2 separate regions of the Homo sapiens genome follow, and region 2 is linked to region 1. Evidence: fine-mapped expression QTL. A gene starts in region 1. The other region holds a variant in brackets. All regions are shown on one strand. Distances are from middle to middle. Region 1 holds the start of BRICD5 (BRICHOS domain containing 5). Region 2 holds the start of DNASE1L2 (deoxyribonuclease 1 like 2).

What was found. PIP is the estimated chance that this variant, and not a neighbour inherited with it, causes the effect.
Region 2: its variant is the best candidate, but not a certain one, in a credible set for the expression of BRICD5 in cerebellum (GTEx, PIP 0.60).

Annotation. Positions count from the first base shown.
Region 1 is chr16:2,208,088-2,213,444 of GRCh38, forward strand. It overlaps BRICD5 (BRICHOS domain containing 5), which reads right to left and starts at 2,776. Exons shown (of 6, transcript NM_182563.4): 1 at 2,696-2,776; 2 at 2,435-2,563; 3 at 2,039-2,194; 4 at 1,863-1,964; 5 at 1,466-1,619; 6 at 1,166-1,369. The coding sequence starts at 2,746. The coding sequence ends at 1,275. It overlaps MLST8 (MTOR associated protein MLST8), which reads left to right. Exons shown (of 9, transcript NM_022372.6): 7 at 123-247; 8 at 363-526; 9 at 672-1,366. The coding sequence ends at 790. PGP (phosphoglycolate phosphatase) reads right to left here. Exons shown (of 2, transcript NM_001042371.3): 2 at 3,506-5,357. RefSeq lists a silencer at 2,031-2,221 and enhancers at 3,661-4,474, 4,361-4,655, 4,475-5,288.
Region 2 is chr16:2,236,266-2,241,622 of GRCh38, forward strand. DNASE1L2 (deoxyribonuclease 1 like 2) reads left to right here and starts at 179. Exons shown (of 7, transcript NM_001374.3): 1 at 179-295; 2 at 513-695; 3 at 773-861; 4 at 953-1,036; 5 at 1,111-1,384; 6 at 1,502-1,753; 7 at 2,097-2,446. The coding sequence starts at 552. The coding sequence ends at 2,153. It overlaps ECI1 (enoyl-CoA delta isomerase 1), which reads right to left. Exons shown (of 7, transcript NM_001919.4): 7 at 3,137-3,880. The coding sequence ends at 3,714. It overlaps ECI1-AS1 (ECI1 antisense RNA 1), which reads left to right and starts at 4,279. Exons shown (of 2, transcript NR_186393.1): 1 at 4,279-4,825. The variant T/G (reference allele first, on the strand shown) is at 3,189.

The sequences.
Region 1 (5,357 bases):
GCCTGCCCCTCACCCGGGGTCCCCATGCACAGTTGGCCCCCAGTGTTGGCCCCCAGGGCATCCTTCCCTGTGTCTCAGACCTGAGGCCTTGGGCCCTCCGTGACGGTCCTCCTGACCTCTAGGGAAACTGCTATGTCTGGAATCTGACGGGGGGCATTGGTGACGAGGTGACCCAGCTCATCCCCAAGACTAAGATCCCTGCCCACACGCGCTACGCCCTGCAGTGTCGCTTCAGCCCCGACTCCACGTGCGTGCAGGGCCTGCTGGCCCGGGAGGGGACCTGCCTGGGCTGGGGGCTGGAGAGGGGAGGGGCTGCTGGATGGAGTGGCTGCTGCTGGACACGCCCCATGCCCACCCACTAGGCTCCTCGCCACCTGCTCGGCTGATCAGACGTGCAAGATCTGGAGGACGTCCAACTTCTCCCTGATGACGGAGCTGAGCATCAAGAGCGGCAACCCCGGGGAGTCCTCCCGCGGCTGGATGTGGGGCTGCGCCTTCTCGGGGGACTCCCAGTACATCGTCACTGGTGAGCCCCGCCCTGGCCTCCCCCATCCCTGGCCCCCGGCGCTGGCCTCCAGAGCCAGCCCACCTCGGCTGCAGCTTCCCCTCTGCTGGGGCCGCCTGCTTGGCCTGCACCTGCGCTCTTAGCCCTGCACAATCTCCCCCTCCAGCTTCCTCGGACAACCTGGCCCGGCTCTGGTGTGTGGAGACTGGAGAGATCAAGAGAGAGTATGGCGGCCACCAGAAGGCTGTTGTCTGCCTGGCCTTCAATGACAGTGTGCTGGGCTAGCCTGTGACCCCTCGGGACTGCCTGGTGCAGGTGGTGGCAGCTGGAGGGACCCATGCAGCACCCAGGTCAGAGCAGACCCTCCCCTGCCGGCCTGCGCCAGCTGGACCTGATGGCCCCCTGTGGCGCCTTGACCTGCTGGGCCAGGCTGCCCTGGGACTCTCAGCCCCCAGTTGCTTATCCAGATGTGACAGAGCTCGACCCAAGCCAGGCTGCACACTCCTGGACTGGGCTAGCCTGCACTGCCTGGGAAAGTCGGCCGAGGGCCCAAAGCTGCTGAGGGGTCTGAGGCTGGTGCCCACCCCCAAGCTAGTGTGTTCTCTGCCCCTCCCTGCCCGCGTTTCAGGGCCTCGGTCCATAGAGAACACCACCACCATGGCCAGGTGGAAGGGTTTATTAGTCCCTGCCAGCAGCTGTCCTCCCTGGTGCAGGTGGCCTGGCCAGCCCACTGGATTGGGGACGGGCCAGGCTGGGCCAGGTCGGGGGCTCAGTCTGGGAGGTAATAAAAGCAGACCGACACGCAGATGTTGCTCGGGAAGCAGATGTCGATGCAGAGATAAATCAGCCGCTGTCTCCGGGGCCCTGTGGCGAGGGTGCCGTGAATCTCCAAGGGCTCCGCCCCCAGCTCCTCAAACCATCCCGAGGGCCTGGCCTTCCCCCACAGCGGTCCTGACTCACCCTCTGCTCGCCGGGCCCAGTAGATGGGGGTCCTCATGCACAGGCGCTGCACCAAAGCCCCCGCCTGGGCGGGGTCCACTTCGAGGCTCCCCTGCACTGCCAGCAGCTCCTGGGTGTGGTGGGTGTCCTGGCTGGGGACCCAAGCCTCTTGGACCTGTTGAGAAGGCTCTGGTGGGCGGTGGGACAGGGCTGCTCCCTGCTCCTGGCTTGGCAGGGCCGGGTACCCTCCAACCCCCAGTGATGTCCCCACCCTCAGCTCTTGTCAGCAGCCTGGGCTTAGGGCGGAGAGAGCTTCCTGTTCCCTGAAACCACAGCTCCAGCCTGTCCCGTACTGGGCTGCACACAGGACCCTTTGTCTAGCCCCTGGCCCGGGCCTGCGCCCAGCAGGACGGCTCACCTTGGAGGTATCCACCAGCAGCCGCAGGGTCTCCCGATCACTGTCCTCCATCAGGCGGAGGAAGCAGACCTGGTGCTCCTCAGGGCGGTAACAGATGCAGCCCTGGGGAGGCAGGGGGGTGAGGCGGGGCCCCCCAGACCGACACCTGCCAGGGTGACCCCTCCCTGCCCACTCACGCTCTGCCCGTCGAACAGCACCGCCCAGCTGTGGTTGCTCTGAGGTGGGGTCACTGTGATGGTCGCCGCGTTCCGGGCCACGTCCACCAGGATGGTTTGGTTGGGCCGGGGCATGTGGGGGCTCGGGAGGGTCATTCGCAGCGTCTGCAGCCTTGGCTGGCAGTGGGAGTTGGAGTTCAGCCGGGCAGCTGTGCAACCCCAGCACAGCCTCCAGCTCTGGGCTGCAGGACTCCTGACACCCCTGAGTGGGCCCTTCCACCCCTTGGTCCTCTGGCTGTCTGCTCCTAGGTGGTGTCACTGCCTGCTCCGCACCCTTGCTCTGCTGGAGGCTGGGATATGCCAGCTTCCCTTCTCCCTTTCCACTGTCCATGTCCCTGGTGCTGAGGAGGGGCTCACCTTGGGAGGGCCCTGAGCAGAGCCAAGAAGCCCTCCAGCCACAACCCCCACAGCGGCCAGCACCAGCAGCAGCAGCAGCAGGAGCAGGCTCACGGCTCTCCAGCCCCCGCAGGAGGGCTTGGTCTTCACCTGGGCGTGCATCAGGGTCAGAAGGGTCATGAGGGTTAGACATCAGGGAGCAAGTGGGCTGGGGAAGGGAGGGGCTGGGTGGCCTGGGGCACCCCCTGGGTCCTTGCTGCAGGAGTAACGGGAGGCACTCACCCCTGTAGGCCCAGGTTTGGGGCGCTCAGCACAGCAGCTTGCTGGTTCCATCCTGCAGCCCCTGCTCACAATGTGCCGATTGTCTGCGTCCCTTGTCTGCAGCCTTGGCCAGGGGAAACTCAGAACAGAACCCCTCCCCTCCTGACCCTGCGCCTCCCCCTCAGCTCTGGATCTGATATCCAGGTCAGAGCCAGGACAGCCCCTCCTCCCACCTGGGGGATGCCTGTCACCAGGCCCGGCTCCAGACACCTGGCCTGTGCAGACTGGAGCTCAGGGTCTGGGAGGCGTAGGGCTCGGCCGCGTGGAAATCCAGTCCGGCTGACCGACTGGAGGGCAGCCCAGGCCCGGCCAGGGTGACTCGCTAAGTGTGGTTGGGGTGGATTTCGTTTTCCTAAAGTGGCCTGAGTCTGTCAGGTTATCCTTGACTCCCAGAGTTGGGCACAGGGCCTGACACGCCACAAGCTGTCAATACGTGCCTGTTCAGTGAATGACAGGTGTGGGACTGTGCACCCCCAGCCACTTCCCAGCCCCCGCACACCCAAGACCGGGGGTTCCTGAAGCCTGGACCACAGACAGGCAGCCTGCTGGAGCCTGTGCCCCTGGGACAGTCAGGCCAGCCTCGGGGGCCCGCCTAGCCCAACTTTTTTTTTTTTGAGACGGAGTCTCGCTGTGTCCCCCAGGCTGGAGTGCAGTGGCGTGATCTCAGCTCACTGCAACCTCTGCCTCCCGGGTTCACACAATTCTCATGCCTCAGCCTCCCTAGTAGCTGGGATTACAGATACATGCCACCAAGTCCCGCTAATTTTTGTATTTTTAGTAGAGATGGGTTTTCACCATTTTGGCCAGGCTGGTCTTGAACTCCTGATCTCAAGTAATCCACCTGCCTCAGCCTTCCAAAGCGTTGGGATTACGGGTGTGAGCCACTGCGCCCGGGCCAGCATTACTTCTGAGCTCTGCTCCCTGCCCTGGGCGCTCTGACACGGCAGCCCACCAGCTTCACTCCAGGGCCCTTTGCTTCCCTGGCTTCCCTTTGTGCCTGGCTTTCCCTCATTCTTCAAAACATCTTCCTCTGAACCAGGCTGGGAGTGGGCAGTTGGCATTCCAGCTCTGGAGTTGGAACCCCAGTTACCCATCTACTTTGAGTCCTCCCACCCGTGGTGAGACGGCATCACCCGGGCCAATGCAAGGTGAGAGCAAGGACACCTGAGCCAGTGTGGGTTTGAGAGTTTAATCTGTGCTCTGGCGCCCACAGTGCTGCAGCCCCTCATGGGCCAGAGACAGGATGCACGGGGACTCCCAGCCCCTACCCGGCAAGAGAGGCATCACTGAGGCTGCATCTGCCATGCGCTCCTGGTGTGACTGCACCCTGTCAGGCCAGACCCGGCTTGAGCCAACTTAGCCAAGCCAGCGTCAGTGTCACCAGCCTCATGGGTGGAGCCACCCTCATGCTGCTCTGCAGCACCCTCTGAACCCGATATCCCAGGCCTGGGAGGTGCTGAAGGCTCAGGACGCCTCTTATTGCTCTGAAGTCTTTGTGACCAAGTGGAGTGCTGTGACTGTGGGGCCAAGAGAGAAGCTGCCAGGTACAGGGAAAGGCGCTGGTAGGGAGCCAGCCAGAAGGTGCAGCATCCCGGGATGGCCCTGCTGAGTCTGCTGTCAGGCCTGTGAAAGGTCAGCAGAGCCAAGGAGCAGGCAGGAGAGGCTGGAGCCCCGCCCAGAACCTTGGCGAGCTGGTGGCCCTGCCAAGTCCTGCTGGCCACTGAAGAGGGAATCCAGGGCAAGGCAGGTGACCTCCTGGGCCACCAGTCTCTAACCCCTACCCCAGCCTAGGGAAGGGGAGGACAGGAAGAGACTGGATGCTTTGTAAAGGACTTCCTGTTCTTGGGGACATAACTCTCGTCCCCTCCCAGAGCCCTGGATGACTGACAGGCATTCCTTGGCCAACACATGCTTGAGCCGCGCTGCTGGCTGCAGGGCACCTGGATGACAGGCATTCCTTGGCCAACACATGCTTCAGCCGCGCTGCCGGCTGCAGGGCACAGAGGCTCCTTCAGTGGAATTTTGCCTACGACACAGAGCACAGCTATTAATACACTTAAAATTCAAATCCATTGCCTGACACAGTTGTTCAAAGTTAAAAACTGGTAGCAGCACTGCTCTGAGCTCCCTGCACTGCAGCCCGGAGTTCAGTGAAGGCGTCCACGCCATGGTAGCTGCTCCGTCCAAATCACCTGGGTATAAATGCACACTTGAGACAGCAGAGCTTTAGCTGGGCTGCGTTTACAGAACTGGGCAGCAGCCCTGGGTATCTGAAACGGAACAGACACTCAGTTGTGACATCAGAGTGGTTTTCAAGGAAGTAAGGGAGGTGGGAGAGTGGTGAGGGCAGCACTTTGCACCCAAGGGCAGGGAGATGCCACCTGGGAGCAGCCGCCTCCTCCACTCCCACCCTGCTGGGAGGCACAGGGACACAGAAGGCTCCGCTGGACTTTCAGTCATACTGATGGGGCTCTGGTCCATGCAAGCCTCTCCCAACAGTCAGAATAATCAGTCCCTCTGCCCCCTGAGGGGCTGGATCCCTGAATGAGTTTTTCAATAAAATACAGGACACACACCCCTAGACCCGCCTCAGTCCCATCGGCAGGCCCTGGTTACCTGAATC
Region 2 (5,357 bases), 28 kb after region 1:
CAGGTCTGGGGCACCAGAACCGGCTCAGGCAGGTCTCCCACCCCTTACCCTGGGGGTCTCCATGGGAATGAAAGCCAGGAGTTCATCAGGCACCCAGCTGAGTCGAGGGGGCGGGACCCAGTGCAGCCCGGCCCCTCCCTGGCCCAGGACCTCAAATACCGGCCCCTGCCTTGGTGCCAGAGCTACTGCCAGAGGGAGTCAGTGCAGTCCTGTGTCGGACACGCCCGCAGCCTGGACCCGGGATCCCCATCCCCCTAGGATCTCTGAGCCTCGGGCCTCTGCACCCACATCCAAGGTGAGTCTCTCGGCTGCCCTGAGCTGGGGCTGGATGGGCCGGACCCTCCATTCCGGCTGCAGCTTCCCGCGCAGTGAGAAGGCAGCGGTCCCTGAGAGCCCAGCAGTGCCCTGGGAGCCTGCAGAACGCAGGGGCGGATTCCGCGTCGCACTGGCCGTCAAGGGGCGGCCGCGGAGGGAAGGGGTGGGTCGGTGGGTCTGACAGCGGGTCTGCGTAGGCGGCAGCGTCTGTCCCTCCCAGCCTCTCGCTCCGCGCCATGGGCGGGCCCCGGGCTCTGCTGGCCGCACTCTGGGCGCTGGAAGCCGCCGGGACCGCCGCGCTTCGCATCGGAGCCTTCAACATTCAGAGCTTCGGTGACAGCAAAGTGTCGGACCCCGCTTGCGGCAGCATCATCGCGAAGGTGGGGCCCGGGCCGGGGCGGGGCGGCGTTTAGGGGTGCTGACCGCGCTGACCCCCGCACCCGCCGCTCCTCCCCAGATCCTGGCTGGCTATGACCTCGCGCTGGTGCAGGAGGTGCGAGACCCAGACCTCAGCGCCGTGTCCGCGCTCATGGAGCAGATCAACAGGTGTGGTGGGCAGGGCCCCTCGTCGCGACCCCCCGCCGGGATCTCGCCCCGGCGCGGCGCCCCGACCCTGAGCGGGCCCCTGTCTCCGCAGCGTGTCCGAGCACGAGTACAGCTTTGTGAGCAGCCAGCCCCTGGGCCGGGACCAGTACAAGGAGATGTACCTGTTCGTGTACAGGTGAGGGGCGGGCCGCAGGGAGGGGCGCGCGGGGCCGCAGGTCGGGGGCTCAGCGGGTCCTCCCCATCTCCTAGGAAAGACGCGGTGTCGGTCGTGGACACCTACCTGTACCCAGACCCCGAGGACGTCTTCAGCCGCGAGCCCTTCGTGGTCAAGTTCTCGGCCCCCGGCACCGGTGAGCGGGCCCCGCCCCTCCCCTCCCGCCGAGCTCTGACGCCCCCACCCCTTCCCGCAGCAGCACAGAACCTGGTGCTGATCCCGCTGCACGCGGCGCCGCATCAAGCCGTGGCGGAGATCGACGCGCTCTACGACGTGTACCTGGACGTGATCGACAAGTGGGGCACCGACGTAAGCCCACCCCTCGGTCCCGGGGTCCCTGCAGGCGCGCCCCGGGGGTCTGGTTCATGAGGGCGGGACCTCGACGGCTCCTGCGGCGGCTCAGACACGGCTCCGCGGCGCCCGCAGGACATGCTGTTCCTGGGCGACTTCAACGCCGACTGCAGCTATGTGCGGGCGCAGGACTGGGCCGCCATCCGTCTGAGGAGCAGTGAGGTCTTCAAGTGGCTCATCCCTGACAGCGCCGACACCACGGTGGGCAACTCAGACTGCGCCTACGACCGCATTGTGGCCTGTGGCGCCCGCCTGCGCCGGAGCCTGAAGCCCCAGTCGGCCACCGTGCACGACTTCCAGGAGGAATTCGGCCTGGACCAGACTCAGGCGAGTGGGCCGTGGGGCGGTGCTGGTCTTGGGTCCCCACCGCCCGGGCGCACGCAGGCAGCAGGGAGGGTCCAGCGCCCAAGGCAGGGCCACCTCAGCTTCCTCCCTGCACCAGGGCTCGTTTCCAAGGACCCTGGAGAGCCCGGCCCACCCCATGTGGAGCTCTGGGCAGGCAGGGTACCTTGCCTTTCCCTCAAAGGGCCAGTGGTGACACCCTCTGCCCCGGCCCCTGCCCCTGCCCCACCGCAGGCAGCAGCAGGGGTGGGCACCCAGGCCTCACCGGCCCCTCCCATCCCTGTGGGTGGGGTGCACTTTTCCCCTGAGGCTCACTCTGTCCCCACAGGCTCTTGCCATCAGCGACCACTTTCCAGTGGAGGTGACCCTCAAGTTCCACCGATGACTCGAGGCCTGGCTGGGGCATGCCACCTGCAGACCCTGGCTCTGAGGAATGGCCCAACAGTGGCCCCTTCAGGGTGGCAGCCACCCTTCAGTGAGGCCCCAAGGCAGAGTCGGCTGGGCGTGGACCAGGGGCCATGGACACGTGATGTGCTGCTCTGTACCTCCGTTCCCCATCTGTGGGACGGGCTGCATCCAGCGACCTCATGGGGTGTTGTGAGCCCCATGAGGGGTGCAGGGGGCACTGCCCGGCAGATGTCTGCTCAATAAATGAGCTGCTCCCGGTCGGGCCCCACAGCTTGGCTCCCAGGCCTCTGTCCTTCCTTAGGACCCAGCCTCAGCTCCTTAGGGGCAGCCATGGCCTGGGCTGCCCACCCCATGTCCTGGTGGGACGTGGCTGCCCCCGGAGCCTGCTGGCCCCAGAAGGCAGCTCAGGGATGCTCCTTGCTCATCCTCTGTGGAAACTACAAACACTCCCAGGAGCCTGTACTGTGAGCACAGCTGGGACAGGGATGGCGCCAACACACCAGCCTCCTGGGCCCTCGGGGCTCTCAGAACAGCTCTCCCCAGGCCCACCCCGCAGCCCCCATTCCAGGGCCCTGCAGGGGCCCCCAGGCACTTGTCTGTCTCAAGAGCCCGGTCTTACCCAGCACTGCAAGGGGAGGCCAGCCCCAGCTAGTCAGCAGCCCTGGAGCTTTTGGAGAGCCTGAGAGCAGTGGGCGGGCTGGACTCCTCCCTGCCCAGGCAGGTGGCTTGGGACTAAGGTCCCGTGCAAAGAACCGCCCAGCTCGCCGTGGCTCAGCCCTTCAAGGCTGCTGCCCTGTGCCTGGGCAAGGACACATTAGGATAGGGAAAAGGCAGGCCCACGGGTCCACTGGGTCACTGACTGGGGCCCGATGAGGTTTCTGGTTTTTGAAACATCACATCTTAGCAAGATGTGGTAACTTGGTCTGAATCGCATGGGAGGAAAAACCTTTGTTTCAAGGGTTTGGATGAGTTTGGTTCTTGCAAAATCCTTCTTAAGGGACATTTGGATCCC[T/G]GGCAGCACAGCTGCCTCCAGAGTCCCACTCCCGCTGGCTCAGGATCCCCCAGTTGCTCTGATTCACTGTGCGCTCTTCATCCTGATGAGTAAGGGCAGTGACCAAAGGGCTTTTCCCTGGGGAGTTCTGTGTGGGTCATGGGGGCCAAGACCACCTGGCCTTACACCTAAGAGCAGGCAGTCCAAAGGCCAGAATGGATGACCAGGGACTTGACTTACGATTCTGCCTTGGGAACAGAGACACTCCGTGGCAACCTCACCAGGTCCAGAATGGCATCCCCTGCCAGTCACAATCCCAAGTCAAAAGGCTGCCCTCCAACTCCCCTTGCCTGACGGGCACAGGCACCCATGTGTGTTTGTGTGTGGCTGGGCCTTGGGCCACTGGGCTATGAGGAACAGGAACTTCTACGTAACATCAGCAAAATGAAACGCTGGCAGTACTTTTAAGTTGAAAAATACCTTGTTTAAGACCTCCCTGGGACCCACAGGGGCACGTGTGGCCGTAAGCCTGTGGCAGCCCAATCGTTAGCCTTTTTCTTCTTTGAGCCTCTCTAAGTACATCTGCAGGGACTTCTGGATGGAGTCTTTGGAGATGAAGCTGACGAAGTTCTGCACGTCCGCATCGCGCTGCGTGACCAGGCGGCTGGCCGTGGCCTTTCGCATCATGGCCTTGGTCAGCTGTCGAGCATGGTCTAAAGAGAATGGGACGTGCCACTGAAATCCCACTTTCAGGGGCAGTGGGGTGATTCCCAACTTATTTTTTATTTTTATTTTTTGAGACGGAGTCTTGCTCTGTCGCCCAGGCTGGAGTGCAATGGTGGGATCTTGGCTCACTGCAACCTCCGCCTCCCGAGTTCAAGTGATTCTCCTGCCTCAGCCTCTTGAGTAGCTGGGATTACAACCGTGTGCCACCACACCCGGCTAATTTTGTATTTTTAGTAGAGATGGGATTTCCTCATGTTGGCCAGGCTGGTCCCGAACTCCTGACCTCAGGTGATCCACCCATCTCGGCCTCCCCAAGTGCTGGGATTCCAGGCATGAGCCAGCACGCCCGGCCCTAATTTTTTTTTGTTTTGTTTTGTTTTTAAAGAGACAGGATATTCTCTGTCGCCCATACTGGAGTGCACTAGTGATCACGACTCACTGCAGCCTTGAATCCCTGGGCTCAGGTGATCCTCTCACCTCAGCCTCCTGAGTAGCTGGGACTACAGGCGTGCACACACATCCTGGCTAATTTTGTATTATTTATTTATTTATTTTTGAGATGGAGTCTGTCTCTGCCACCCAGGCTGGACTACAGTGGCGTGACCTTGGCTCACTGCAACCTCCGCCTCCCAAGTTCAAGCACTTCTCCTGCCTCAGCCTCCTGAGTAGCTGGGATTACAGGAGCATTACCATGCCCGGCTAATTTTTGTATTTTTAGTAGAGAAGGGGTTTCACCATGTTGGTCAGGCTGATCTCGAACTCCTGACCTCAGGTGATCCACCCTCCTTGGCCTCCCAAAGTGCCGGGATTGCAGGTGTGAGCCACCGCGCCCAGCGACTTAACGTGTCATTTTCACTCAACTATATTATGAAGAATATTTCCACGACGCAGGAGGCTGAGGCAGGAGAATGGCACGAACCCAGGAGGTGGAGGTTGCAGTGAGCTGAGATCGCACCACTGCACTCCAGCCTGAGCAAGAGGGAGACTCCATCTCAAAAAAAATAAATAAAATAAAAATAAAAAAATTTCCATGGCACTATATTAAATACTGTCTTACAGCACAGGAAATGGCAGCACAGCCTTCAGTCATTTGTATCAGGGTTGGCAAATCTGGCTTCTCAAGGCCCTGAAGCTATGAATAGTTTTTACTTTTTTTGAGAGGAGTCTCACTCTGTCGTCCTGGCTGGAGCGCAGTAGCATGATCTTGGCTCACTGCAACCTCCGCCTCCCAGGTTCAAGTGATTCTCCGGCCTCAGCCTTCCCAAGTAGCTGGGATTACAGGTACCTGCCCCCACACCCGGCTAATTTTTGTATTTTTAGTAGAGACGGGGTTTTGCCATGTTGGCCAGGCTGGTCTAAAACTCCTGACCTCAGGTGATCCGCCCACCTTGGCCTCTCAAAGTGCTGGGATTACAGGCTTCAGCCACTGTGCCGGGCTGGTTTTTACATTTTTGAATAGTTGAA